Regions from separate parts of the Homo sapiens genome. Here region 2 is linked to region 1. The links come from fine-mapping of genetic effects on plasma protein levels. A gene starts in region 1. The other region holds a variant in brackets. All regions are shown on one strand. Distances are from middle to middle.

Evidence for each region. PIP is the posterior inclusion probability: the model's chance that the variant is causal. Protein levels are from antibody-based Olink assays in UK Biobank. Linkage for the fine-mapping came from a reference panel and not from the study's own genotypes, which makes the PIPs less certain.
Region 2: its variant is fine-mapped to the plasma level of the F3 protein (UK Biobank, PIP above 0.99).

Annotation. Positions count from the first base shown.
Region 1 is chr1:94,535,036-94,550,684 of GRCh38, reverse strand. F3 (coagulation factor III, tissue factor) reads left to right here and starts at 8,926. Exons shown (of 6, transcript NM_001993.5): 1 at 8,926-9,148; 2 at 10,317-10,428; 3 at 14,521-14,720. The coding sequence starts at 9,049. It overlaps MIR12133 (microRNA 12133), which reads right to left and starts at 6,983; the gene lies at 6,906-6,983. It overlaps LOC124904223 (a long non-coding RNA gene), which reads right to left and starts at 8,711. Exons shown (of 2, transcript XR_007066234.1): 1 at 3,813-8,711. RefSeq lists a silencer at 8,727-9,006.
Region 2 is chr1:94,601,819-94,617,467 of GRCh38, reverse strand. The region is part of intron 1 of LOC105378861 (a long non-coding RNA gene); the gene reads right to left. SLC44A3-AS1 (SLC44A3 antisense RNA 1) reads left to right here. Exons shown (of 6, transcript NR_160780.1): 6 at 397-1,116. Among named protein-coding and RNA genes, the nearest start is that of MIR12133, 66 kb to the right of the region's middle. RefSeq lists enhancers at 7,957-8,457, 8,458-8,958, 10,874-12,073. The variant A/T (reference allele first, on the strand shown) is at 9,091.

The DNA.
Region 1 (15,649 bases):
GCTGTATGAGACTGTGAGAAACCATCCCTACCCCACTCAGCTAAAAAGCAGCTGGGACTGAGAATCTATTGGTATTGCTTGGTATCATTGGGGTAATATCTCCAGTTACAGCATGACCTTTCTGCCCTGTAAAAACAGAGGCAAAATGACTTTCTCACGTAAGGGTCCAAAGCTCTCCTTTCCCATTCGTGGGATATTCGGAGACAGCTGGTGGGTGTTTGTGGTTCATGCCTTTACAATCAATTCCAAACCCTCTTCATTATAAAAATAAAATCTCCACCTTCCCCAACAGCTCCCTAACACACACACACACACACACACACACACACGCCCCGTCTCAATCAACTACCATCGCGCCTATGAGTTTTTTTCCTTAATGACTGCTTGTAATGATTATTGTAACCTGATTGCCAAACGACAAAAATGTTTCTGATGGGAGGGAGGAAAAGGGCACAAGGTGATTTTTCCTGGGATGAGCCTCAGTCGTGGGTTCTGCAGACGCCGACATTTTTCTAGGTGACACCCAGGCACTGGTATCACATAACCTGGTACTAGAGGCAGGCTCTGAAGCTGGTACCAGGCAACATAGATTACATTTGGGGAAGTGACTGACCACGGAGGGGTCAGGTCGTAGTGGAGACCACCCTACATCCCATAGGAGGGAGCTCATCTGCAGAGGCTCCCTACGGGGCTCTCAAGTAGGGAGCAATCACTGCACAAATATTCCAGGGAAATAGAAGTGACTGCACGACAAGTTCCAACTTGAGCCTGGATGTTTGTATCACGATGATAAATAGGACATTAATTCATAGGTGAGAAAAGGGCTGTGGAATGGCTGATAGATAAGTGAAAGTGATTATGGACTAATCTAACTCATCAGCTCAATGATGCCATAAGCAAGAAGTAGGTCAGAAAGGGCTTTCCTAATATTTATGAGTTGTAATCATGACCCATATTTCTTAATAAATAATAAGATGCTGAGGAGCATTTATCTCATGTTGTCAGGGTAAATAAGCCATTTTCAGAGATAGCTTCCTTTTTCCTGTTTTGGAGAGGAAAGCAATCTAGATGTGGATGAAATGAGTTGGAAACAAAGCAAAAGAAAGATCCCTTTGTTCTTGACTTGGGCCAGGTTTTGGCTTAGTTTTCTTTCAGAAAGTCCCCATGTTTTGAAGCCAGGCGCATCACAGAGGGTCAACTTCACCAGGTAGGGAAGACAGGGGAAAAAGGAAAAAGGGACTTGAATCAGTGCAGTGGTTTTCACTGAGCTTTCATAGGAAATGTGCATGTGTTAGTGTCATGATTGAGGAGAGGCCACATAGCAACATAGGTTGTGGATGTGCACCTTGCAGCTCCACTATTTGTGTTCAAATCCCAGCTTAGCCATTTCCCAGCTGTGCCACTTTGGGCAAATTATTTAACCTCTCTGGGCTTCAGTTAGCCTGTCTGTAAAATGTATAGTTCCACCTACCTCTCAGAAGGTTGTTGTGAGCATTCAGTTAATACCTATAGGATGCTAGAACAATATTTTTTGGCCATTTTCACTGGCAGCAAGTAATAGACTGGTATTGAGATCACTGGATATTCCCAAATGATCATTTGCTTTTCCACTGACATCATGACATCAGCTAAGAAATAAAAGACAGAACAAAGCCATTTTGCAGATTTCCTGAATCCTCGGAAAGGTTTTGTCATAACCATAACCAAGACATAAACTGTCAGAACCATGTCAGGGCTATGTCTTCGTTATCAGACTTTTTTGTTTTTTTTTTTTTGGCAAGTGCTTGATTATAGCATCTAAGTATTAGAAGTACTGGCCTTTGGTGGAGAACCAAGACAGACACATTCCTGCCTGCATGATGCTAGGGTAGAGCAGAAGACACAGACATCGTGTGTAACCTCAATATAGGGTGATGAAAACTTTTGTGAAAGGAAAAATCAATGTGGCAAACTTCATGTTATCTTATTTTAAGAAATTGCCACGGCCACCCCGATTTTCAGTAATCACCACCCTGATCAGTCAGCAGCCAGCGACATCAAGACAAGACCCTTCACCACCAAAAAAAGTACAACTCTCTGACGGCTCAGATGATTCTTAGTATTTTTTTTAGCAATAAAGTATTGTTAAATTAAGGTCTGTACTTTTTTAGACATAATGCTATTATATACTTTATAGACTATGATGTAGTATAAACGTAACTTTTATATGTGCTAGGAAACCAAAAAGTTTGTGTGACTTGCTTTCTTGTGATACTTGGTTTATTGCCATGGTCTGGAATTGAATCTTCATTATCTCCAGAGTCTGCCTGTAACTGGTTTTCTGCTCACTCTTAGAGGCCATGACCTCCTCTTTCTTACTAAAACTCTCCTCCTCCTCTCTGCTGTTCCTCTGTGGTCCAGCTTGTTATGGTCTGATGTTGGTTTCCTCCTAAAATTCATACATTGGAACCTAATGCCCAATGTGATCGTATTAAGAGGTGGGGCCTTTTAGGCAGTGATGCATGAGGCCCTGCTCTCATGCATGGGATTTGTGCCCTTATAAAGGAAGTTAAATGGAGCTGCCTTGTCCCTTCTGCCATGGAGATACAACAACAAGTTTCCGGCTACGAATCAAAGAGTGAGCCCTTGCCAGACACCGAATCTTCCAGTGCCTTCATCTTGGACTTCCCAGCTGCCAGAACTGTTATTTCTGTTACTTATAAATTACCCAGTCTAAGGTATTTTGTTAGAGCAGACTAAATGGACTAAGCCACAGCTTAAATAATACTTTCCTCTAGGGAACCTTCTCTCATCACCCCAGTGAGAACCAAACTCTCTCTGTAGAGGTCCTGAACATCTTCTGTATCTTTAAGCAAAGCTTTCTGAATACGGAGGACCTACTGTGTGCCAGGCACTGTTGCTAGCACTGTAGCTACCTGTAAAGATAGAGCAGTCTCTTCCAGCACAGGGCTTTCAATCTACTAGCAAGAGATGTGACACTATATCCCACATCATTCGTACCACTTTCCCCTGTGGAAGCTTAAGTATTTGTCTCGTCTTCCTGACTAGTTACGAGATATTTTACCAAAGGGACTCACAGTTCCTGGTATACTGTCCTGTGCATAGTAATCCCTTAATAAGTATTGATTAACCCATATAAGGCAGGATCTTGGTTAACAAATCCATTGTGATTGGAGATGAAAAGTAAACACTATTCTTAAAATAAGGTGCAGGTCTAAGATCAATCGCTCTAAATTGGTCATTTTAATAGCTGTCTCCATAGTATATGTCCTGTATCTTAGTCCATTCAGGCTGCCATAACAAAAAATACCATAGTCCAACTGGCTTAAACAAACATAAATTTATTTCTCACAGTTCTGGAGGCTGGGAAGTCCAAGATCAAGTTTCGAGCAGGTTTGGTTCAGCTTCCCGAACCGTCTTCTTGCTATGTCCTCACATGGCAGAAAGGAAGATGAAGCTCTTTTATAAGGGCACTAACCCCATTCACAAAGGCTCCATCCTCGACCAGATCATCTACTTATGGCTCCGCCTCCTAACACCATCACATTGGAGGTGAGGATTTCAACATACGGATTTGCTGGGTGGGTGTGAGGGGGCACAAACAATGACGCTAAAGCAACCTGTTATTCCCCTTATGGCAAGGAATAGAAGTATTTGATTTAGAACTGTGAGAATAGAAGTAGTTGATTTAGAACTGTGAGATGCTAAAATGTTGTAACATAAAGGGTAATGATGGTTTAGGATGACAATTACAACCAGTCAAACAAACATGTTTCCAGTGTGAAAAATAACTTTGCTTACTAAGGAATTACCTCTGTCTTGAGAGTTCTGCTTCAATGTGGAGTTGGTATAATAGGATGGAGCATCACCATCAAAGGCAGCAAGGGATTGGAAGGGTTACAGGCTCAAAATTTGGAGCATCTGTTAACTAGGCTATAAAATGTCAACAAACAAACATAAAAATAACAATGAAATATCTTGCACACATGCTTTTAAGCTGATTATTTTACTTGTTTTTTTCCTTACGTGAGGAATCTCCTCCTACTTGGTTATCTTTTCTGCTAGACTTGCCTTTTTATAAAGCTGTCTTTCTTGTTGAGCTTCATATATTTTTTCCATATTCAAAACTTTGAGAGTTCATCAATACGTTCAAACTGATAGAGAATGTATATTTTAAACCTGTAAGTCATTTTCTGAGTTAAAGATACCTATTTGATGAACTGATCATGACACACCTAAATCTTTTTGGGGGGAGGACAGAATGAAATTTGTAAATAAACAACACTGTTAAGATTGTTTTATATCCAATTCAAATGCTGACAGAAAATCATTCAAACCATAAAATCTGCCGGGCATGGTGGTTCACACCTGTAATCCCGGCACTTTGGGGGGCAGAGGCAGGCGGATCACCTGAGGTCGGGAGTTTGAGACCAGCCTGACCAACATAGATAAACCTGTATGTACTAAAAATACAAAATTAGCTGGGCATGGTGGCACATGCCTGTAATCCCAGTTACTCAGGAGGCTGAGGCAGGAGAATTGCTTTGAACCTGGGAGGTGGAGTTGCAGTGAGCCGAGATTGTGCCATTGCACTCCAGCCTGGGGCAACAAGAGCGAAACTCTGTCTCAAAAAACAAACAAACAAACATAAAATCTGGACATAAGTAGGAATGATGATATGTTTAACAGGAAAGGGACTTCTTTGTTTTACTCTGTACATCCAGAGTCTAGCAAAGAACCCAGTATCTGGTGGACATTCAAGCATTTGTTGAATGAATGAATTTCTGTTCATCAAATTTAGTACATATGTCAGGTATAAAGAGTTACAGAAATGAGGAATTAAGAGATGCTTAAGTAAATGATACCATATACAAAATTTTAAATCACATAAATATTATATTAATAAGAACATAGGTTAAGGGTTTTCATTTTAAATGACTTTTTGTTACTAAAATAATACCCACAATTCATATTTATTATTTATCTATTTTGTCACCATTGTATGTAGATAATAAAATAATATTTACTGTTCATCAAAATGAAAGTTGAAAGGTAGTTTGATAAGCTTTACGTTTATAAAAATAGATGTCTGCTGAAAATACCAATCCCAGTCTAAGACTTGAATTGGAAGGTTTTTCTCTAAAGTTACATTTTTCAGAATACTGGTGCTATGTGATAACTCATTTAGCAAAGCTTCTTGTAAGCTGTTCTAGACAGTTGATAGAAGTATTTTGAATGACCAGGATAATAGATTTTATCATACTGACTTTCAACTGTTTAATTTTGGTCTAAATGAACTGTTGGACTAGTATATTGCTATTTTCACAAAATGCATAATCATGACTGCCAATTTTTCCATGACTAACTATACCCAGCCAGATGTTTCTTAGGTTCTGCTGAGTCACTTTTTTCCTTTTCCTCCAGAACTCTGTGTTCCTACTAACTCCTAATTCCCTCTGGCCTTTTCTCATACTTTGCCTTTTACCTGAATTTTGGGTAATGGTTTCATTGCTCTTTTTACCATTTCATATGCATAAAATAAGTTTCTCTGAATTATTCTCAATTTTACTTGCTATCATGTATCTTAACCTATCTCTTTCCTGGGAAATAAACATTTTGAGGAATTTGTTTTAAAAAGTTATTCAGCCTCTGTATGCAAGGAAAACTATCAACAACCTCATCGCATGATGAAGTATATTCTGAATCATCGTAGAATCCAGTCTTTTAAAAAAATGCTAGCTAGTTTCCAAACTTCTGTATCTGGTTTCTGCTTCTCAGCTATCTCTCCTCCTGGTGAGATTTTCTGGTGGTGCAGAGATAGCTAATCACTGGTTAGACTGCTAGAACTTGCGGTCGAGTGGTGCCTTTCCAGTCATGATGGATTTGTATTTTCTTACCAATCTCAGCATCATGAAACACTCACTGCCTGGCCCCTAGAAAGAGTTTTCAGTGACAGATTTCATCTCTTGAACACCAGTGAAATATTTGGTTGCACTCATAGTTTTATAAAGTATTCATTGACTCAAAAGGTATTAAGTGCCTATTATGTGCTGATAATTGTGGAAAGGGTTGAGAGAGGAAAAAAACAGACAAAAAACCCAATCCAACAGGAAAGATTAACAGGTAAACACACAAGTGAGATTAAGTGAAGTTCTCAATGAAAATGAGTCGGTAAAATTGGCAGCAAGTACTATAAAAGTACAGTGGAAGGGCTGAAACATCTCCGCAGTTATTTTCAGACTTCTCATCAACCACATTTCATCACTGGTTATGCAAAGGGAATTCAAACTCTTCTACGTGTCTCCTTGTCTGTCTATTTCAAGGACTAACCATCAGGATATTTCTGCCTAAGAACAATGAGTTCCCCAAACTGCAAAGTATTTTCTATACTTTGTGTGCAGTTTTTGTGCAGTTTTGCACTTTTCTGCACTTTGTGTACATGCAGAACATTTTTGAGTGCTTATGGATGGATTAATTAATCATTCATTTGATGGATTTACCACCCAGTCTTACTTTCCTTCATTGGGAGTAGGAGAAAGCCTGGTGATGGAAGGAAAGCCCCCGGGGTCAGAAGACCAGATCTGCACTGTGTGGTTAGGCAAGCCAGTTTACTCAGATCAGCTGGCCACAGGGTTCTCATCCATAAAAGAATGTCTGTGAGGTTCTCCCATCCTCTGACATCCTAAAATCCAATGAGAAAGGGACTGGTCAAGCCAGAGAGATTATTGTTATAGTTTAGTAACTTTTTGAACTTCTCAGAGCCTCCAAGATAGATCATGGAGGAGGGAACTGTTAACTGCTAAGCTTGACTTTACTGACAGGAGTAAAAAAAATTGTGTTAAGGTTAGGGAATAATTTTAACAGTCAATTTGTTCTTGTGAACAAATTTCAACAGTGAAATTTTAGATATGTACTTTTTAATGGTGCCAAGCAGCAGTTATTATAGATCAACTGCTGTTTGGCACCATTAAAAAGTACACTTCGCACCGTCAAAAAGTAGATCTGGCCACAATTAGATCAGTCAGGGAAAAACACTTCGCAATGAAATATTATTTACCACGTTTTCTTCCTCCCTCTTCTTGAAAATAGTAATGATTTTAGCATTTTTAAATCTTGAAGAATGTCATTCCGTACTGACTAAAAAGCCTGTGCAAACACCCAACATCTTCTCTTTCCTGTCTATTTTAATGGATATACAAAATAAATATTCATCTAATTTATCAATATTTAAGGCACATTGTGTATCACAATCCAATGGTAAACATTTTTCTTATCAAATGGCTGATCTTGACATTGTTTAAAGCCCTATATGATTTCAGAAAAGTCAGTGACTCCAAGTGGAATTGCAACAATTTCTTGGGTCTTGTAACAAACCTGAAGTGTAACTATTTCTCTTCAGCTACCTTCAATCCCAGAGAGCAAAGAATCACATCCCAGGTGGAGCTGAAGATCTCTTAGGGAAAATGACTCAGGCTAGAGCCTGCATAAAAAGAGGATTGCATGGCTTAGTTTTGCAAACATAAATTTTGTGGGTTTCAGAGCTGGCAGAGAGCTCAAAGAGGAAATCATCAAGGGCAACTTTCTGCTTCGAGGAAGGAAAGTCTACAAGGGCTAAACCTGGATGTGCTATTTCAGTTCAGGCAAAGGAGGAAAATTAAAATTTTGCACAGTTTTATTCTGTTAAAACAAGTGGTTCAGTAAGCTAAACGAGATATGTATATAGTATGCATTAAAATGCAAGACTGACTTCCCTGGGAAAACGTGGGAAAGAAGGAGAGAGGAAACAAACAATTCTTACACTAAGAATTCTCCAGTCGTGTCTTGCAGGCAATATAGAGTAATAATAATAAAAATGACAGGAGATACTTTGACAGGATGGCTTAAAATGCCACTCAATAGATGAAGAGTTGTTCTCATGCTTGGCAAGTTTACAGCAAAGCCCAGAAGGAGAAGCCAGAAAATAATTTAGAAAAACCAAAGCTTAAAACTAGTGGCACACAACTCTGGTTACATTTTTCATTTTCATTTTTGGTTCCTCTGCATTTCGGTGGAACTCAGTCCCACAGATGTCTTCTTCAATGTGGGAACCATCCTTTCTGGAACCACAGAGCTGCAGATGTCACGCTGGAATTCTCCCAGAGGCAAACTGCCAGATGTGAGGCTGCTCTTCCTCAGTCACTATCTCTGGTCGTACCGGGCGATGCCTGAGCCAACTGACCCTCAGACCTGTGAGCCGAGCCGGTCACACCGTGGCTGACACCGGCATTCCCACCGCCTTTCTCCTGTGCGACCCGCTAAGGGCCCCGCGAGGTGGGCAGGCCAGGTATTCTTGACCTTCGTGGGGTAGAAGAAGCCACCGTGGCTGGGAGAGGGCCCTGCTCACAGCCACACGTTTACTTCGCTGCAGGTCCCGAGCTTCTGCCCCAGGTGGGCAAAGCATCCGGGAAATGCCCTCCGCTGCCCGAGGGGAGCCCAGAGCCCGTGCTTTCTATTAAATGTTGTAAATGCCGCCTCTCCCACTTTATCACCAAATGGAAGGGAAGAATTCTTCCAAGGCGCCCTCCCTTTCCTGCCATAGACCTGCAACCCACCTAAGCTGCACGTCGGAGTCGCGGGCCTGGGTGAATCCGGGGGCCTTGGGGGACCCGGGCAACTAGACCCGCCTGCGTCCTCCAGGGCAGCTCCGCGCTCGGTGGCGCGGTTGAATCACTGGGGTGAGTCATCCCTTGCAGGGTCCCGGAGTTTCCTACCGGGAGGAGGCGGGGCAGGGGTGTGGACTCGCCGGGGGCCGCCCACCGCGACGGCAAGTGACCCGGGCCGGGGGCGGGGAGTCGGGAGGAGCGGCGGGGGCGGGCGCCGGGGGCGGGCAGAGGCGCGGGAGAGCGCGCCGCCGGCCCTTTATAGCGCGCGGGGCACCGGCTCCCCAAGACTGCGAGCTCCCCGCACCCCCTCGCACTCCCTCTGGCCGGCCCAGGGCGCCTTCAGCCCAACCTCCCCAGCCCCACGGGCGCCACGGAACCCGCTCGATCTCGCCGCCAACTGGTAGACATGGAGACCCCTGCCTGGCCCCGGGTCCCGCGCCCCGAGACCGCCGTCGCTCGGACGCTCCTGCTCGGCTGGGTCTTCGCCCAGGTGGCCGGCGCTTCAGGTGAGTGGCACCAGCCCCTGGAAGCCCGGGGCGCGCCACACGCAGGAGGGAGGCGACAGTCCTGGCTGGCAGCGGGCTCGCCCTGGTTCCCCGGGGCGCCCATGTTGTCCCCCGCGCCTACGGGACTCGGCTGCGCTCACCCAGCCCGGCTTGAATGAACCGAGTCCGTCGGGCGCCGGCGGGAGTTGCAGGGAGGGAGTTGGCGCCCCAGACCCCGCTGCCCCTTCCGCTGGAGAGTTTTGCTCGGGGTGTCCGAGTAATTGGACTGTTGTTGCATAAGCGGACTTTTAGCTCCCGCTTTAACTCTGGGGAAAGGGCTTCCCAGTGAGTTGCGACCTTCAATATGATAGGACTTGTGCCTGCGTCTGCACGTGTTGGCGTGCAGAGGTTTGGATATTATCTTTCATTATATGTGCATCTTCCCTTAATAAAGAGCGTCCCTGGTCTTTTCCTGGCCATCTTTGTTCTAGGTTTGGGTAGAGGCAATCCAAAAGGGCTGGATTGCTGCTTAGATTGGAGCAGGTACAACGTTGTGCATGCCCCGTATTTCTACGAGGTGTTCGGGACGGCGTAGAGACTGGGACCTGCTGCGTACTGGCAAAGCAGACCTTCATAAGAAATAATCCTGATCCAATACAGCCGACGGTGTGACAGGCCACACGTCCCCGTGGGTCTCTGTGGAAGTTTCAGTGTAGCGACATTTCAGATAAAAGTGGAAAAAGTGAAGTTTGGCTTTTTTCATTTGTATGCAGTCCTAACTCTTGTCACACGTGTGGGATTTATCTTTTTCCATAACTTACTGAAAACCCTTCCTGGCGGGCTGAACCTGACTCTTCCTGAGCTGAGTCCTGGACTGGCACACTGATGGCTCTGGGCTCTTCCCGGTCAAGTTATAACAAGGCTTTGCCCATGAATAATTTCAAACGAAAATGTCAAGATCCTTGCCGGTGTCCTGGGATTACAAGGTGAATCTTGTCATGAAGAAATTCTAGGTCTAGAAAAAATTTGAAGATTCTTTTTCTCTTGATAATTCACTAATGAAGCTTTTGTGGTTGAAAAATAAAAAGTGAGGTTTATGGTGATGTCAGGTGGGAAGGTGTTTTATACATCAATACATTCGAGTGCTCTGAAGTGCATGTAATAATAGCTGTTTCTCTGTTGTTTAAAGGCACTACAAATACTGTGGCAGCATATAATTTAACTTGGAAATCAACTAATTTCAAGACAATTTTGGAGTGGGAACCCAAACCCGTCAATCAAGTCTACACTGTTCAAATAAGGTAAGCTGGGTACAGAAAAAGAAAATTAAGGTCTTTGATGTTTCTACTGTCCTATGCTGAACAAGAATGTCTTTAAAGCTGATTACTGGATGAAATTATTTAACAGATGACGAAGAAGAAGGGATTCTTGGCAATTCGCTGGCCGGTGTCATACTCTATTAGGCCTGCAACATTTCCAGACCTTAAACTGATAGAACATTTTAATTGTTTTAATTGTTTTTGGAAATGATGGGAGAGTTCCTAAGTGGAGTATAAACTGTGGAGAGATGAACCATCTTGAGTAGGCACTGAAGTGTGCTTTGGGTCATGATAGATTAATTAATCTCATCTAAACATTGATGTCTTTTTCTGTTGCTGTCTAGACTGTGAACAATGTCTAACACCTTAGGGAAGAGGTGGGGAGGAATCCCAATGTATACATTGCCCTTAAGCAGTGTTTGATTCATTCATCTTTGGACTCCATGAATCGAAATCTGGTAGAATACATGATCTTAGTGGAGGAGGCCAAATGCGTGACTCACTGAGCCTGGCAGAGCAGAAATACTCTGCTGTCTGCACCCTCTGGGTCTGGTGTGGCTCTGCTTCTTGGTGCCTCAACTCTGACTGGCAGCTGTCCCCAGGAGGCGATAATTCAGCATGTTCAATCTAAAGGTTATGACTTCCTTGATGGTTTTCACCATATTCTTGGCAAGTTTTTGGTTTTTGAAATGTTCTAGGAGGCTTGGTAGAGATCTTATGAAATAGAGAATAGCTGCTGTGGAAATTATTTTAATGCTAATTACATAAAAGTACAAAAGTAGCACTAGCTAAAACAAAAGGTATTTTGCTGTTCTGTTTTGTTTTAGCTTGTGCCAGGCCTTTTACAGCATTAGGAATGCAACTTCTAGATAACGATGCATCTTTTAAGTGAATGTTCTTGTTTTTCAAAATGAACTTCATGACAGTAGTTGCCAAACCAGCAAGGAGAACTTGCATGCATACGTGCATGCATGTGTGGATATGTATGGGGGTGGGGGGAGAGAAAGATGAAGGAATTTCATAACATGAAATAATGATTACAGTTCTGGTCAAACTTGTCAATTCAGATTTCACCAATTGAGAATTAGTAAGTAATTTCTCTGATACAGGCCTGAAGTTTACCTTAGTAAACACTTTACTTCCATATGGTAAAAATTAGATTTTGGGAGGAATGCTTACCTCCTAAATATATTCAATCTAATATTTGAGGGACACATGGGAATATATTTATGATTCATCTGCTTTTTAAACATAAGCCTTTGTTAACTGTAAGTTCTTGAACTTTATAAGGCTGCTGTTATTTAAATGAGCACAGCTCCTGATCTGCAAACAGCAGAGCGCAGGGCTACAGCTTGGGGGATGCCAGCCGACTCAGGGTGGTCCTATGGACTGAACAATCTCTTGCTGCTGTACTGGAGGGCCTGGGAGCTTTTCCATCAGCCTCGGCCTGAGGTGTGCACTCTTCTCCTGCCCACCCCAGGAATAAATGAGATTCCTGGTTAAAAAGGACCAGAGCAGTCATTTTACAGTTGAGGAAACTGTTGCTCTGAGAAGTGAGGGATTTATTCATGACTACACTGATGGTGAGTGCCCATGTCAGGTCTGGAACCAAAGTCTACCCAGTATCCACACACCACCATCCCTCAGGTGGCTCTGCCACAGTCTGATGGGAGGCTCCAAAGCGGGAGGAAGAAGGAAAGTCTTGCCCACTGCATCTCCTCAGTTGGCCTTCCTCTCTGCCTGTTTTCCCTCCCTACAGTTAGCATCTTAAGCAGCTGCCCCTCTTCCCTCCCGACTGCTCTCACTACTGCAGCCTGGCTCCAGCCGCAGGACACTACTGCTGTGCAGAAGCCCCTACTTGGAACTCCAACTGCATTTTTCACCTTTGCTAACAGTTTTCAGTGGTGGTTGGGAAATGTTATTGGCTTAAGCCTTAGCACAAACCGTCACCGGTGATATTCATTCCATGGAAATGTTCTGAATTCTAAAGCTGAATTTACAAAGCTTCTGGAAAACAACCTGCAACCAAATTAGTGACTGAATTTTTTAGTTAACTCAAAATTCCAAATCAGAGGGTTTTGCAATGCCTGGAGGAACCTTGGAGGCTTTTAAAGTGTTAATGCTATTAATGGCATTCAGAGGGATTTTCTACAGAATTGTCCCTTCATTACCTGTTTATACAGTTTTACTACTTACCAGGGTACTGTATAAATCCTTGTGCTAAATTTTGCTATAGAGTATGTGGTCCCTGCTGTGAGCTGGGAGGAACCAAATACTGTATCTCTATGTTACATAGAAAGCCCTAGGAGACTTTCTCCTGTTATCTGAACAACTATTTGCTGTACTGATAAAAAGGAAACAGCATAGTCTCATTCACTTTTTGAAATGGAAATGATAAAATAAAACACATTTTGGTCATTCGGGAACAAAATACCCTCTCTACTTTTATCACATAAAATTAAATAAATAGAAACCAAAATATTTCAGTATCAATCTTAGTTTGTGCACTTTAGGATAAAGAATGTGTTTACCCAAATCCTTTTGGCCTGGTTACTTAGTTCAGATTTTGAAAGAAAATATATTTGTGGCTTTTATGTGTGAATTTAGACAATGGAATCCATGTGGTGCCTCGTTTTCCCTGAGATTATGTATTAATTCAACCTGTAAATGCAAACCATCTAATAGTCAGCGAGACCCTATAGCCCTGCTGCTTAATGGGGGCACACAAGGGCATGCAGCCCTCGTACCAGGCAGACTGTGTTCATATTAACAGCATCGTGGAGAAACTCATGCTGGGGGACAGGGGAGGGAGATGTAAATGCTCAGCAGGGAGATCTGGAGATTCCTGGAGCAGGTGGAGTTGGGACCTGGCCTTGAACGATGGGTCTGGCTCTGGCAGTCAGTAATGCCAAAGGGAAGAGCAGCATAACTGTCACTTTCCATGGGACAGAAGTGTGTGAATCAAGTTGCAGTGACGCTTCACCTATTTATTATTTTGGTCATTTAGAAGAATTTCATTGTCAGTAGAAGTCCTTTAAATCATTTCCCCTTCAGTGACGTCTCACAAAAGAAAGATCTGTCTTTAGCTTTTTAGTCTCAGACTTTATTAGACAGATACTACCTGTACTCTTATTCTGTAATCTTTGTTGGGATGGATTCACATCTTGCAAAGGAAGGGAGGCATGTAGTATAATGGGGCAAACAGACCCAGCTCTGCCACTCGTTAGATATGTGACCTTCTGCAAGTTGCTTAGTGCCTGTGAGCTTCAGTGTCCTCATGGATAAGAAAGATCCAACACCTTCTTGGAAGGATTATATCAAATGAAGTAACATGAGTAAAGGGTCCAGCAGAATACCTGGCATATAGTGGAGTCAATGAATGATTAATAATATTATTAATAGTGGTCATGAGAGAATATATGTATAACATGTTATTATGTAGACTCACTATATAGACTCTATTCTACATAGAATATAGAACATTATATAACAAACAACTATAATAAGTAGACTATAGTAAACAACCTCACTTTGTCTCAGTTGCCTCATCTTGATGGAAAACTGCTCTTTCTCTCCTGTTACCCTGACAGAGAGCGTCTACATTCTAAAAGAAAGATATTTAACAAAATGGTTGAGTACAGATCCAAGAGTCAAATAGCTGTCTGGTTCAAAGTCCAGCTGTGTGATTTTGAGCTAGTCACCCAATCTCACTTTGTCTCAGTAGCCTTATTTGTAAAAACAAGGCAAATTACAGAGCCATCCCCTGGGTTGCTATGAGGACTCAAACATGCATCCCAAGTGCTCGGTGTTGCTAGGTATGATGGCTCACACCTGTACATTCAGCACTTTGGGAGGCCGAAGCAGAAGGATCAGCCTGGGCAACATAGCAGGACCCCATCTCTACAAAACAATGTTTAAAAAAAAGCAAAGTGCTCAGCACAGTGACTGCATCATTAGGATTGATTGTAGGGCTCCTGATGTTAGCACAGAACACCACAGCCAGGAAGCAGTCTATCTTGTTGGGTGCAAATTGTAACATTCCATTTATGTTTCTTCCTTCTTTTCTTTCTTTAGCACTAAGTCAGGAGATTGGAAAAGCAAATGCTTTTACACAACAGACACAGAGTGTGACCTCACCGACGAGATTGTGAAGGATGTGAAGCAGACGTACTTGGCACGGGTCTTCTCCTACCCGGCAGGGAATGTGGAGAGCACCGGTTCTGCTGGGGAGCCTCTGTATGAGAACTCCCCAGAGTTCACACCTTACCTGGAGAGTAAGTGGCTTGGGCTGTAATACCGTTCATTCTTGTTAGAAACGTCTGAACATTCTCGTGATCTTGTGCCTTTAGGGGCTACAAAATTAAAAATATTTATTCTTTTTTTCTCAGAAACTGGTATGTATCACAGCCCTCTTCACACATTCCAGATGTGGTAGGAGGTTCACAGAATGTGAACTTTGGAGCTGATGACAGTGTCATCAAGTAACTTTCTCCCCCAGTCTGTCCCCAGACCCTGTTACTGTCCTCAGTAACCGGCTGAATGTGTGTTGGGAGAGGGCGGGCCAGGGAAGCGGGTAGGGATAGGAAATCCACCAAGGCCGGGGTTTTAGCTTTTCCCTATATATATATCATGTATCCTGATTTTTCTGTCCCGTTATCACACTAAAAATCCCAGTTGAGGATTTTTCCCAAACGGTCATAAATCAATGAGGAAAGTCCATGGTTTCCCTCTGAGCCCATAATTAGCCTAATTATGCTGACCTTTTCTAATCAGTTGGCCATGATTTGAGTTCCGTGATGTGCCAGCACCTGCCCAGCCATCTGCCTGTCACCCTCGTTCTGGTTTTGGAAAGGTGGAATACTTTCCTCCTCAGCCTTTGCCCCTGTAAGCTGGCCCTAGGAGCCAGTAAAAGAATGAAGAGAATTCCTGTCAAGTAGGAGATTTATTCTTTTGCCGCAACTGTGGCTCTGAGCTAGGCAATTTAGATAAATGCATGTAGCACATTGAGTAGAGTGAAATTAGCTTCTCTTGTAAGGCCAGCTGGTTAGAATGAAGGTGTTGTGTGAGTGTTAGGCCCAGCGAGAGAGAACAGTTTCTCAAGGTAGGAATGGTGAAAAGAAGGGGTGGACGGACAACCAACCAACCATCCTCCTCTGGTATCTACTTTGAGGGTTGAAATAGGGGGCCTGACCCCAGGTGAATG
Region 2 (15,649 bases), 67 kb before region 1:
CATAATCATATAACATATGCTGAGGACCTTTTGCAGAACAAGAGGGACTGAGGGCTGTGCTATGAGGGCTACAAAAGATGTGCACATCCAGACCCTTGCCCTCAGGAAAGTGTCCAATGCCAGCTGTGTCTGCAACAGGCTGTGAGGACTTGGGCACACTACAACCTCTCTAAGCCTATTTCCTCATCTGTGAAGCAAGGATAATAAAACTTATCTTACTCGTTATAAAAATCAGAGGTAATACGCATAAAGCTTGTTGGATTGTTTTTAGGATCGGATTATTGTTAAGAAATAGATATTATATGTTAAACTCCTAGCATAGTGCCTAGCAACTGGTAGGCATTGAATAAATGGTAATTACTATTGTTACTAATATGCTATTGTCATTATTTTTAGTGTGGATCAGTGTTAAAAGTGCTTCATGGAGAAATGGAGGCCTGAAAGCGACTCTGAAGGAGGAGTGGGGCTCAGCAAACAGCAGACGAGTTTCAATCCAAGCACCCATTACCCCCCTAACACACGGCATACGTGCATCTCATCTCCTCCTGTGTCGCTAAGAAGCTACCCATATGTCTGTCATTAATTCTCCAGAATCCTTGGACACACCCCTCTGCAGAGCTTTCTAACAGGAAATACAAGTCTCAGATTTTTTTTTAAGTTAAAATTGAGTGCAGCACTCATACCTTTCTTCGAGCATGAACCGTCAATCAACACTGCCTCATGAGCTACTGCTCTCCTGCTCTTTGAAAAGACAAATCCTTATTTCTTTGTAGTGATCCAGAAGGCAGTGGGAAGAATGACAGGTGCTTGGTTATCTTCAATTTAATCTCTACCTTTCAATGGGGCTAGTGCAAGCTAGGGCCATTTTACTGCACCCAAAGGAATTTAAGACATTTCTATTATCTCTAAAGAATCCAGATTAACATGCCTTCTTGGTGGGCAGGGAGACCAGCTATGAATTCTAGGATCTCAATTCAAATGCTTTTGAATTCTTCCTGCTTGTTCAGTTAATTACATATATGTCACCACAATCTTGCTTTTTTTTTTCTATGCTTCTAATTTTCTCTGAAACTATAACATTATTTTAGGGGTTAATAAATTTGTAATTGGAAAAAATGTTTTTACTTCTTTAGGCTCATCTTTCCTCCCTTCCTTCTTCCCCTCCCCAACAAAACCTTTATTTTCTCAAGTGTCCATTCTTTCTGTAGGAAAAACCATCATCATAATTACAATATGTTAAGTGACTACTATATGCCAGGAATTAGCTCAATTCTTCACTTATTTTATTTTACATAATCCTTTCCAAAACCCCCTGTCATAAGTAATATTATTATTCCTACTATATAGCTGAGACTCCTGAGGATAAGAGAGGTCAAGTAATTTGTCCACTGCATTAGGTGGGTAGAGCTAGGACTTTAATCCAGAACACCAATGACTGTTCTCTTCTTCACCATTACACTACTTTTTTCAAATTTCTAGAGACCTTCATGAATTCTTTGCATTTTGTTTTTTGGTAGTATAAATATTGATATTCCCAAAGGCCAAGTAACTGCTCTTAATAAACAATTGCAGCCAAGCGTGGTAGCTCATGCCTGTAATCCCAGTACTTTGGGAGGCTGAGGCGGGTGGATCACAAGGTCAGGAGTTCGAGACCAGCCTGGCCAATATGGTGAAAGCCCGTCTCTACCAAAAAATACAAAAATTAGCCAGGTGTGGTGGTGCACACCTGTAGTCCCAGGTACTCGGAAGGCTGAGGCAGGAGAATTGCTGGAACCTGGGAGGCGGAGGTTGCAATGAGCCAAGAGGATGCCACTGCTGTCCAGCCTGGGCGACAGAGTGAGACTCCGTCTCAAATTAATTAATTAATTAATTAATTAATTAAAAAATAAAAATAAACAATGACTTCCATGGAAGCAGTTATAAGCTGCCTTGAAGCAACTGCCCACAGTGGTTTTCTGACCTAGGTGAACTTGAAAATGGAATGATCAGCTATTGGCTGCACGGTTTTGTTCTTTTCAGAAACAAGGGAAAGGACAATGTGACTTTGCAAATATTTAGGGTACTACAACTTAATATTCTTAGCATAGCAGAACAGTGCTGGGAATCCCTGGGTCTTCTACTGAAATCCCCCTAAAAATTCCTTAAAATATTTTCCCTCAAAAAAAATAAAACTCAGCTCTGAAAGTTTACATGTGTTGACTGCCCCAGACAACAGGAAGTGAAACGACTTAGTTGGAAGGAGGCAGGGTCAGGGTGGAGGTGCTGCTGAGTGTGGGAAGTCTGGAGTGCGGAGAAGGCGCCCAGAGAGACTTCCTGGTGAGCTCTTCAGAGGAAGGAGCAAGTGCAAAGGCGATTGCAGAAGCCAAGGGATCATCTTTTCCTCAACATGCACAGCCAGAAGAAGAATCTCAGAAGCTGCATGTGCTCTAAAGAAGAACTGCTGCTCTCTGGGTCTCTTGGGCTCCACACTGCTTCCTAAGTTTCTGAACTTCTGGAACTTTTCCTTCTCAGTGAATAACTCAAAGCCTTAATTCTAATGCAGCAGGTTTAAAGCACTTGCATGTGATTTGATAGGAAAGTCTGGGGTGGATAGTGGTCATGAACAACAATATCCCAAAGTATTTGTTATTTCTGCCTGGCAATTATAAAGGATGAAAGTAGCATGGTCATGGCAGAAATAGATGGTGGGTTAAGGTTAGATCAAGTTAGATCTCAGGTGTTGGCAGTTTCCTAAGCCTTTGAGGTTCCCATAGCTAACATCTTCAGAACCAAAGGGGCAATCTTCTACTGGTTACTGACTAAGAAGAGAAAGCGGAATCTCTTAGAGGGTATTTGGTAATGTAGGGTTAACCATGGTGTCACGGTTATCGCAATGATTGGGGAGTGTTGCAAACATCTAGTGAAGAGGGCAGGGATATTAAATGTCCCACAGTGATGGAACACTTCTGTGCTGTGAAGAACCACTCCATCTCAAACGTCAGCAGCACCCCTGGGCAGGTCCCTGCCCTCAGTGGTGCTTGACTCTGGACTAGGTCCAGAGATGTGCACAGCCAATCTGAGCTTTATTTTCAGGAGACTTTGCTGAAAAAGGACTGATGACGTCACCAGCATCATCCTCAACAAGTGTCTGTGACAGCCTGTGACGTGGAAGGCAGGGTGCTGCCTAATGAAAGGCCGCGAAATGCTTTGAGAATCAAATAGACTCTAATACAACTCCCAGTCTGTTACAATATCCAGGATGCTTGCACTTAACTTAGAAATGTAATGTATCCTCTTGCCTCTTTTTTCTCTCTTATTCTATGTAAACAAGGGTTTGCTCTATGAAGCCAGAAAAAACAAAATTCTTACATACAAGTTTCCATTAGCAGTTCTATATCAGTATCTATCTTCTCATACGATATGCTTTCAAGACTACAGACTTCTCAAAATAATCAAAAGACTGTAGTGTACACTAAAGGTTGACAAGGCTCTGATCTAAAATAATATTTTGGTCTTGTCATTTGGAGGGCGTTTTGTGATGTTTTGACCCTAAATTTCACATATACTAAAGTACACAGAAAAAATATTTAATTCTTAGACATTCTGAAATTATTTTAAAAACTCAAACTATTTATTATGGTCAAACATGCCAACGGTAACTTGCCCTAAACACATTTTCTTCAACTGCAAAAGAAATGAATAAATTATGGAAGAACAGCAGATTTTATAATCTTAAGAGTCTGCATTTTCTGAATATTGATGTATACGTATATACCTAAAGACACCCTATTCTATGTTTCAGAGTGAATTCTTATGCTGTGAGTTCTACCTTGAACAGCACTAGTGCTAAGTAGGATAAGAGCTATGCAGATCTCTCTGCTAACTCCTCCTGCCCAACCCCAAATGTCTGTTCCATGGCTCAGTTCCATTCCTCTGCATTTCTTTCCTTGCATATGTTACAGGAAAGGGGTCCCGATCCAGATCCCAAGAGAGGGTTCTTGGATCTCACGCAAGAAAGAATTCAGGGTGAGTCCGCAGTGCAAAATGAAAGCAAGTTTATTACAAAAGCAAAGGAATAAAAGAATGGCTACTCCATAGACAGAGCAGCCCCAAGGGCTGCTGGTTGCCCATTTTTATGGTTATTTTTTGATGATATGCTAAACAAGGGGTGGATTATTTATGCCTCCCCTTTTTAGACCATATAGGGTACCTTCCTGATGTTGCCATGGCATTTGCAAACTGTCATGGCGCTGGTGGGAGTGCAGCAGTGAGGACGACCAGAGGTCACTCTCGTCGCCATTTTGGTTTCGGTGGGTTTTGGCCGGCTCGTTTACTGTGACCTGTTTTAACAGCAAGGTCTTTATGACTTCTATTTTGCGCTGACCTCCTATCTCATCCTGTGACTTAGAATGCCTTAACCATCTGAGAATGCAGCCCAGTAGTTTTCAGCCTCATTTTACCCAGCTCTTATTTAAGATGGAGTTGCTCTGGTTCACATGACTCTAACACATAGACTCCTGAAACTTGACCTTTCACCTCTCACTTTTATCTAGGTTGCCTAAAACTGCATTTTCATTTCTGACCTCTCACCAAATGCCTAGAGTCACATTTAATATTGCCTAATGTGCATTGCACATGCAGGTCCTGTCTCCCTTCCAACAGTGTCCCCAAACACCACCTCTCCCCTCTTCTTCCTAATTCTTTCAGTTTCTCTGGCTCTCTGACACCCTTTCAAATGAGAGAAAAATTGAGAAGGCAGGGAAAGTGAAAGTGGATTTCAACTTTAGCTCATAATGCCTTGTGTTATCAGCAACCCACTCCACCACCCTATGACAAAATAAGAAACATCTCTGGGACTGGCTGCTTCTTGTATCCCCAGAATCCACAACTCATAAATGGCCAAGAAGGTTGGGAAAGATGAAACTATAAACTAAAAATAAAATCCTAAGTTCCCCAACTGACGGAATGGACTCCCTCTTGTCCAAGGAGGCCTCAGAAAATGTTAAAAACTGAGCCTTGACAGGAGATCAGATACGCCTCATTATGCCCCCTCCCTTTTATGGGTTAGAAAGAACTGAGCAGCATTAATGTTAAAATTGAGCTCATAAGACTGACAGAACAGACTCTTTGTGGCAATAAAATACTAAATTATAAACAGGACCTAGAGCCATGCCAGACAAGGGTTGAGTCACTCACCTCTACACCTAAAGAATAAACTGTGTTCTCTGCCACAAGGTTTACCTTTTTCTCTAGCAGTTAAACAAGCACTGGCCTCGAGATAAGCAATAGTAAAACAATTTGCAGCCACTGCCATGCACTAACTGACCCCCTGTTCCACAAGCCATCACTACAGCTTTGATTGGACAAGAGACTGATTTCAGTAACTTTCTCCTGATAAGAAGACCACCAACCATTGACTGACTCTGGCCAGTTTACAGAGGATGCACATTTGAGTGCCTTTGCATCCTAAAAAGACCTTTGACATTAAAGGCCTAATTGTAACACATTTAAATGTTAAGTCTTCACCCCTAGGTGAACACGGGTTGTATGTTACATGCATGCTTGTTCAATATGCATGCGTCAGGACCGCCTTCATGAATATTCATGGCTCCTCTTATAACCTGTTGAATATGTGTACTTGGCCAACCCATTCAGCTTAAATTCCTGTCCAAACCTTCCTCCTTCAAAGTGCCTGTCTTCGGTCTTTGCCAGAGGCTACACTTCCCAGCCTGCAGATGGCCACCTTGCAGGCTGTAACCGTTTATAAGAAACAAAGTGTCCTTTCCAAATTTATATATTTGTGAAGAAAAACAGTGATCTCAACCAAATTTCCCTTGCCAGTAGAGAGCAATAATTTGAATAATATAAAACAAAGTGACAGAAATTCAACTCTAACCAGCTTAAACAAAGGCAAATTTTCTTAGTTTAATGAGCTAAGAAGTCCAGGAGAGACTGGACTTTGAGCACTGCTGTATTTGGGTGCCAGACAATGTCATCGGGGACCTGTCTCCTCCCTCTCTTTAGCTCAGCTCTCCTCTGGATTTACCTCCATTCTCAGACCAGCTCTCCCCAAGTTAGGCAAAGACAGCGACCAGCACTTCCTGCCAGCTTTGCACCACCACCAGGAGGAAAGCTCCAATGTCTTATTGTTTCTGCAAAAGGTCGGGAGCTGATGCTCATTTCCTTTGTTGGTCAACATGGCCATGCTCACCCCTAAACCAATCAGAGATCAGTGCCCTCATTGGTCGGGTTTGGGTCTAGACTCCTAGAGCCAGTCACTGGGGTCAGCCCTAGGCAAATCACATGGACTGAGGATGGAGGAAGAGTGATCCTCTAAGGGCAGTGATCTGTTGGTGCCATAAGAAAAAGAAGTGGATGCTGGGCTGGTAAAAATATGGTGAGCAGGTGCTCACCATAATCCCTAATAATGATATCTATAGGATTGTGGTAAGAAATAAATAATATGGATTCAAGAAGTTTGAAAACCATAATGCAATTTTATCTAAAAGGTGTTTTATTATTCAGCAGATAATTCTACTTTTCCACAGAAAAACTTAGATAGATTGGGCCAGGCATGGTGGCTCACACCTGTAATCCCAGCACTTTGGGAGGCTGAGGTGGGCAGATCACGAGGTCAGGAATTTGAGACCAGCCTGGCCAACATGGTGAAACTTTGTCTCTACTAAAAATACAAAAAAAAAAAAAAAAATTTAGCCCGACGTGGTGGCACGCGCTTGTAGTCCCAGCTGTTGCAGAGGCTGAGGCAGGAAAATCGCTTGAACCTGGGAGGTGGAGATTGCAGTGAGCCAAGATCGCACCACTGCACTCCAGCCTGGGCAACAGAGTGAGACTCCCTCTCAAAAAAAAAAAAACAAAAAAACAAAAACACAACTTAGATAGATTGCGTTGATGCTATAACCAAAAGCAATAGCCATTGCCTGTGCTGCTGGTTGGTCCAGCAGACTCCAGTGGCAGAGGAGGGCATCCTGGTTTTGTGGTAGGAAGAACCTTGGCTTTGAAGTCCTGCAAATGTGGCTTCTGGTCCCGATTGCATTTTCTATTGGCTGTGTGAACTTGCACATGCCACTTAGCCGTACTTCCTTCAACTGAAATGAGAGTAAATCACACTTTCTTGACACCTCATTTCTAGGTGGATTAAGAAGTCATGTGCAAAGCACCCATGATGCCTGGCAGAGCAGGTGAATGGTTAACAAATATTAGAGATATTAGCCCCTTTTCACTCCCGTGCCTCCAGGACTCATTTTATTACTTTATTACAATTGAAATTTCAATAACTTAAGGCATCTTAATACTGAAATGTGGAACCTGGATAATCCTATTTTTTAAAATAAAGAAACAGAAGTAAATCGAGTTGATCATTGCTGAGTTGCCATTTAAATATTTCCTAAATATACTAATTGGTGGGGGAGGGAGATCCGAATGTGGAACTGGGGCCTTTGCCCTAAATATCCATTAACCCAGGCCATGAACTATGGCTTCAAATGTTGTTGGTATCTCTGACATAGACACACCAACTCTAACAGCACACAGACCAGACCTAGAGAGCAGGTGTGGGGTTATAAAATTATCTTCCCAAGGTGCAAAAACTGCAGTTTTTAAGACAAACCTGAGTCAGCAATGGGAGTGAAATGTGAGCAAGGAGACCGTCAGCGATAAGGAAGGGGTGACTAAACGAACCGGCCTTCCTGGGGGGATTTGGTTTTTGGTGTGTATTTTGGGCAAGGTTAGATGGGAGCAAGGACAGGAGTCAACAAGACTGTAAGATGAGAGCTCGCCTCCTGAAGGAACTTGGGAGATGCCCCGTGCGCACCCCCACACCCCTTTCTGCTAATCGCTTCCTTCCACCCTCAAATCCCTTTTTGCTCCAAGAATCATCCTCTGGGAGGAACATTTACTCAGTTTACTCATTTCTGCCACCTCACCCGCCACATTTATAAATGAGCCAGGGCTCAGGAAAGTATGCGTTCCCTCCCCTGCCTCCCCAGAGTTATAGAACCACAAAGAGCCACCTTAGGAGGCCGTACGATGCTCCCAGCATTTCCCAGGAAGTTTCAGGCCCCTCTGTTTATAAAAGCAGTAACTAAAGGAATGCCAAGTGCTCTTCAGCTTTGTGTCAGTATAAACAAGTTTCACACTGGATGGATCGCCATCAGCCTGGAGTTTCCACAACCAGCACGAAGTCACCACCTTCTGTTTTCTGCTCTCAGCTCAACCTGGCCACCCACCTCCCACTGTGTCTCAGAGCTGTACTTTCCTGTGGGCAACTTTCTGAGCCTGCAGAGGAAAAGGCATCAGCCATACTGCAGGGTTTATTCATTAAGATTTTCAGACAATTTCCTACTATCTCAATCAATTCAGCGGATAGCTATTAAGAAACCAGAGGGAGAGTTCACTCCAGATACACTGAGATGCAGTCTCCACATGAAGAAACTTAGATCAGGCCTGCAGCTCCAGGACACAACTGCTTATGCGCCTCTGTGCAGCCACACCTGGCTGCCCAGCTCATCAGCTCTAACTCTGTGTTCTGAGGAAATCTCCATTCACCGAGTCCTGCACCTTAACTCAGTTCGATGATGGGATGAGAAGGACACAGTGTGGGGCCTTGATAAGAGAGGAGGCCCCTCAGGCAAGCTTGGGCCACAGTGGCCGAAAGAGCCTTGCAGTTACCAGCAGAACACTGCAACTCACTGACCCTCACTTCTTGCTTTCCTGTCTGCAGTCGAAGCCCTGATCCCTGCTTCATCATTCACACACAGACCACGTGTCTCGAAGTTCCAAAGTTAGCAATGGCCGGTCCTTTCCAGACCCATTGGTTTACACAGCCTACACCCCAAATTCTACCTGTCTTTGTTCTCTGTTTCCTGTAAGACTGTGTGTGGGCCTCACCTCCTTGGCTAACTAGACTGGAAGCTCCTGAAAGGCAGGGGCCTCTCACCCGGGTTCTTTTTTCCTTCTCAGCACTCAGCAATCTGCTTGGAGCAAGGCTTATAGATCACTTTGTTGATTGTTACCAAAACATGGACTTGGCCAGTTCTGGGTAAATCTTTAACTTTCAAGGAGCCTGTGAGCAGACGAATGTCCGAAGGTGCT[A/T]AAGTTGTATGACTCAACAGATACAAACACAGATGGGGTTGGGTCATTCCTTATTCCACAGCTGGTGCTCTGTCACCTGGGTCCATATCCTCCCGATAAACAACCTGGCTGAAAAGTAAGAGCTGAAGGGCTAAGAGGGAACTGCAGGCCCAAGGCCCAAGGAGGAGACGGGGGAAAACAAGAAGGGAGGGATTAAGAAAGAGATCCACAAAGAGGAAGGGGGAGAGGCAGGCAGAGAGAGATTAGAGCAAAAGAGACAGACAGGAACACAGAGAAAGAGGGAGAGAAACAATGGAGAGCAAGAAAGGTCAGAGGTGCCGAGGGAGGGTGGTAGAAAGCTCAGGCGGTCTGGGATCAGGTCACCAAGCCATGATTTGTCCTAATAATTGAGCACCTGCTACATGCCAGGAGTTGTGCTAGGCCCTGGACATGCAGTGGTCAAGAAGGCAAGCCCATTCCTCAAGGAGTTTATATTCTAATGGAGGACTGATGATAAATAATATGCAATAAGATGTGTTGAAGAAAAATAAAGCAGAGGCCAAGGATGTTGGGAGTCAACGTCCTGTAATCCTAGCACTTTGGGAGGACAAGACGGGTGAATTACTTGGGCCCAAGAGTTCAAGATCATCCTGGGCAACATAGCGAGACCCTGTCTCTATGAAAATTAAAAAAAAAAAAAGTATTAGCCAGGCATGGTGGTACGTGCCTGTAGTTCCAGCTACTCAGGAGGCTGAGGTGGGAGGATCACCTGAGCCTGAGGCTTCAATGAGTCATGATCACAAAACTGCACTCCAGCCTGGCTGATAGAGCAAGACCTTGTCTCGAAACAAAACAAAGCAAAATAAAGCAAGGTGGAAGTCTACTCTCAAGTAGAAGCAGAATTTCACTTAGAAGATTTGACTCCTCATCCAGTGCTCATGTGAAAGACCAAATGCACCAGACCATCAAGGAGATGGTTTTATTCAGGGTATTGCAATAGGGAGAATGTTCATGAAAGGAGAATGTCTCAAAGAAAAGGAAGGGGCCCCGGGGCTTTACACAGGCAGGTGAACAAAGGAATCTCACAGGAATCTCTAGAAAGGATGGAGGCAGGTCTTACTTGAAATATTGGAGGGCAGGATGGTCCTTTGAGATTTTGCCATGGAACACAAAAGGATGGGGGTGTTTTGGAAAACAAAAAGGTAGGGGATTTCTTAAGCTCAGGTAAAGTTTAACCTGTCCCTAATATCCTGCCACCTCCATTTTTCTAAACACTAAGTATGGTCACTTTGTTGTGCTCATTTGCTTCTTACCAGCACCGTAACATGGAGTTCCTTCAGGCAGCACACAAGCCCTTTGTGATCTGATTTCTATCTGTTCCCAATTAGCTGAGGTAGGGAAGCACACAGAGAACACACGAGAGGATCTTGTAGGCCAGAACACCCAGTGTCTCTGCACACCTCCCATTGGCCAGAATGCAGTCTCGTAGCATCCTCAACTGAAAGGGAGGCTGGGAGGTATCACCTAGCTATTTGACCAGGAAGGAGGAAATGGATGTTAGTGGTCACAGCTAGCCAGCTTTGTTGCATGTGCTGTTCCCTCTCTCTTTAGAAATGTCCCTCTGCTTCCTTCCTCGCCTTTCTCTGATTAGAGGGCGCCGGTGCACCCTTCAGGTCATCTAAGTGTGTCTTCCTTTAGGAAATCTTTCTTGACCACCAGTGTGGTCAGTACTCCTTGAACGCCTCTGTAGCACCCAGAATATTTTATAGCACTAACCATATGACTCACATTGTTCACTTTCTCATCAGTCCCCTACATGACACCTTGAGGTCCCTGACATTAGAAGCTGTGCCTTTTGTCTTTCTGTACTCAATGCCTAGTGCTGTTTGGCATTGGATTGTAGGTGATCAATAATGTCTGTCAAATAAATGAATGGCTCCTGGATGGCTTCTAAATGGCCAGGATCTCCAGATGTGCTCCAGAAGGATAATTTCAACCAAGAAGAAGACACAGAAGTTTCCACAGTCACCCTAATAGCTTTCGTTTGCCATCTGGGCCTGGGTCAGTTATCACACTGGGACCCCAGGAAGAAGCTTAGTGTTGTGGATGTTAGAGATGCAAAGAGAGCTCAGGTGCCTTATTTTGAGCTCAGCCCACTAACCGTCTTTACAGCTTGATTAGCCTTTAGAGAGAAAACAGAACTTTGGCCTCAACTTCCTGGCAGGTAAGGAAAGAGATTAGCAGATGCCCATTGTGTGAACCCGGCTAAGACTACAGCCAACTCGGAAGCAAGGCGATGGGCTGGAATGGCTCCTATCCACATGGTATTTTGGTAAGTTAAGAAAAGTTACATAGTGACACACTCTGGTACAGCTTCTGTGATCCCCACATTGCTCTCAGCCAGTTTGAGTCAGGACCAAAGACAGTAAAATCTTATTAACACAGGAGAGAAAGACTGAGTCATTTCCGTAATGACTGCCTCACAGCAGGAATCATTACCAAGCCTGAGAGCGAGAAAATGGCGCTCTCTTTTTATGTGGAATTGTTGGCTGGAGTCTCGCCTTTATGACTTTTGAAGAAGGAATTATATGGTTCATACATCCAAGAACAAATAAAACAGGGTTGCCGGCCGGGCTCGGTGGCTCACGCCTGTAATCCCAGCACTTTGGGAGGCCGAGGCGGGTGGATCACGAGGTCAGGAGATCAAGACCATCCTGGCTAACATGAGAAACCCTGTCTCTGCTAAAAATACAAAAAAAATTAGCCGAGTGTGGTGGTGGGCACCTGTAGTCCCAGCTACTCGGGAGGCTGAGGCAGGAGAATAGCATGAACCCAGGAGGCGGAGCTTGCAGTGAGCCGAGATCGCGCCACTGCACTCCAGCCTGGGTGACAGAGCGAGACTCTGTCTCAGGAAAAAAAAAAAAAAAAAAGCAGGGACGCTACCTCATGGTGTGTGAGTAGTCAGACAGCAATGATACCAGGACCTGGCATCAGTGGGGCAGAGCAGAGCGGGGTGGTGTTGAGGAGGGCCTGGGAGGAGTTGGGTATCTGCAGCTCTTGGGCCTGCCGAGGTCCCCTTGCCACCTCCAGTATTTGTGTTTGAGGTTCATTAGGGCCAAGCGGGTCAGGAAAAGGAATAGAACATAAATTTCATAGCTTTACATGGTTGACTTGGGCTCTGTAAGTGGTAAACCCAATGAAATAAAGGTGAATCATGCCTTTTGAATCCTATGTCTTTATTTAGGTTCCGGTGCTTCTCTTCCTGGTTGGGCTGGTTCTTATCCAGGCCTTTTGAGGGCCATGGAGGGTGTCTGAGGGCACAACAACAGGCCTCCTTTAGGGACACTATGGCCTCAGGACCTTAATTCCCAAATGCTTCTGTTCTCTTTAGCTCTCCTCACAAGAGGGGAAAACTGCTGCTATCTCTCTTCTGTGGAGTTGTAGGTATGTGCCTGCATTAAGCAGAAACATTGAGCTGCTCAGATGATGATGACGATGATAGCTAACGGTCATTGAAACTTACAATGTACTAGGCACTAAGTTAGGGTATTTACATGCAAGATCCTGTTTAAATCTCATAATCACTCTATAAAATATGTACTACATCCACTCATTGTTTTAGGTGGAAAACATCCTGGTGGGGAAGATTCTGAGAAATTCAGCTCCAAAATAGAATCATACTAAGAAACCCACCTAGAAGTCCTGGCAAGGATGTGCTTCTGAATTCCATCATCATTAGTGGTTGTGCCCTGGGAACCAGCACAAGCTCTTTCTTCAAATTTCATTTCAAATTTTATCACTTTTCAACACCCCCACTGTAACGACTTTAATCCACTTACCATCATCTCTCACCTCAGCTACGAATAATAACAGATATTTTTGAGATATTCTTGGGTACCAGGCATTGTTCTACACACTTTACATGTGTGTTATGCCTTAATCTTCATGGTAACACAACAAGGTAGGACTCATGATGGAGACCGCTGCATTGCACAGCTCTGAGTGGCACTGTGCACGCTGCACTCGTCGGACTCCAGGGGGAGATTCTGGAGTTGTACAATGTGGTAACCCTATTACATCTCCATTTTATAGATGAGAGAAGTGAAGTGCAGGTGAGTTATTTAACTTGTCCATGCTCATGCTGCTCATCAATGGCAGACATGCTTCAAACCCTGGCAGTCTGGCCCTGGAGGCTTCCCCACTGTGTTATACTGCCTCTCCGTCCCTATACTAGCCCCCTGGTTGGGGCCTCTGCTCTTGCTCTTCTGTATTCTCCAGTGGCTAAAGTGATCCTTTTAAAGCACATAAACAATATAAGGACTCAAAACTCTCCAATAGCTTCCCATCAATCCTGGAATACAATCTGAACAAACTTCATAGCATGCCCCATGAGGCCCTATGTGATCTTCTCCTCACCCCATGCCTCCAGGCTCCTGTGTGACAACCTTCTCCCAGCTCACTATATTTTTGTTTTCCTGAGACCATACCCTTCTGATCTTTTTGTTTTCCTGAGACCATGCCAAGCTTGTGCTCACCTCAGGGCCTTTGCACATGCTGTTTCCTGTGCCCCTGCCTCATCCTCTGCCTGGATCCTCTCATGGGCCACCTCCTCACCTCATTCAGGACTCTGCCCAAATGCCACTTTCTCCAGAGAGGCTTTCTTGATGTATCCATGTAAAATAGCCTCCAACTCACTTCCACCATTCTCCATCCCTTTAGCCTTCTTTGTCTTTCTTTGTAGCGCTTAATAGTACTCAAGGTTATACTATGGATTGATTAATGTATTGGTGTATTAACCCTTGGATGTAAACAGGGACTTTTTCATCCTCAACACTGAGTCTTCAGGGCTGGAAGACAGACTGGTACAAGTTGGAGTTCAATAAATACTGGTTGAGTAAGTGAATAAGCAAAGCTCCTGGAGAGCAGGGCCACCTCTGCCCCAGTCCAGGGGACACAGTCAGTTCTCAGTAAGCACCAAGAAAGCAGGTGAGGATGGGAAAAGGAGAAGGAAGACAGGGAGAAGAAGAAAAGCACTATTCAGATTTCAACTTGACAATACTTATTTAGTGTTTCTTTGGTGCTAAACAAAGTGACACATATCTCATTTAATTCTCACATCCTGTGAAGTAGGTAATTTTAGCAAGAAAGGAGAAATATAAGGATGGTAGGCAGAAATGTGTTTGCATTAATTCCTTGATGCAGTCTTTACTTACGACAGAAAAAAGGCTATCATTAAAGATATGGACTTTGAATTGCTTATCTTTATGCAACTAAGCCACAAGAATTTTGTGTTTATTTTTTATGATTCAAAAGCATTAATCTTACAAGCTGTATAATTTGTATTTACTTTTGCTATATCTTCAAGATAAAGGATTCATTCTACCATCCACTGCTCCCCCAATCCAGCTTTTAAAAATCCCCCATGTAGTGATTCAGTTCATGGAACACCTGTGAGTTCCCTCTACAAATTGCTGCGTCAGTTTTTCTGCGGAAGGAGTCTTTCTAAGGATGTGTCCAAACTAAAATACCATTTTATAATAGCATTAAAACAGCATTTTAATCACTTGATCATTTTAATCACACAGCTTGCAAGACTCAAAATCTTCATAGTGTCCTCATCTGAAATTTTGGGGGCCCCTAAAACAATTTTTTTTGAAGTTGTCTCTCCTTATTAAAAGAAAGTACTCTTCAGTGGGTTAAGCTCCTCCTCATCTAACAAGGCATAAGCTGGTTGTTCTGTGGTTAAACCTGAGTTTACACAATAAGGATGTGGCTACTACCACAGGGTTGTGCAAAACAGGGGAATCTTACGACGTCTCGGCTTTGGGCAGGGTCCCAGTTTATGTGACAAACCCCAATCCAACGGCTCCCTATACCACTGGGCCAGCTGGCCAACCTGACTGGTCCCTCCAGTCCTCCCTCTGCGTACCAGCAGGACCTCATAAATTCAGGTTGGGGTTAGAATTAGGATTAGCGGTCACCCTCTTGTAGCTCAGACCCACTCGGTGCTGAAGCAGCTCCACGGGCTGCTTTCCAGAAGTGTCGAGGCTCTTAAAGGGCTAGTAATACTCAAATAATAACATGCGCCTAGCCAGAGACATTTAACCCCTGAAAAGTGTCAAGGATAATGGAAATGATAAACCCATGTCACTTCTGAGAGATATTTTGGGGGCTCATTTCTTTCTTTGTGTCCTGATGAAAGGAAAGGCAATTTGCATATTCTGCTGAACCCTGATTCTCAACCACCACAGTGTTCTGGACACTAAGTTGCATAATAGGAAATTTAGGGGAGACGCTTTCCCCTTAGAGCCTTCCTGCTGCATCTGCCACAGTTATCCCTTCAATAAACAGCCCCTCTCCATGTTATTTAAAACTCAGAAGTGCTCTCAACAACTCACTCCTGATCAATTATATGCCTAAGGTGAAGTTGGGCATGAGCAGGTATTTTGTAGTGAAATGAACTACCATTTGTATAACACATTGTATTTATGATACAGCTTCATTCTCAGCCCTGGGCTGGGTATTATTATGACCATTTTTGTTAGCGGGCAAACCCAGGTATAGAGGGGCTGATAACTTG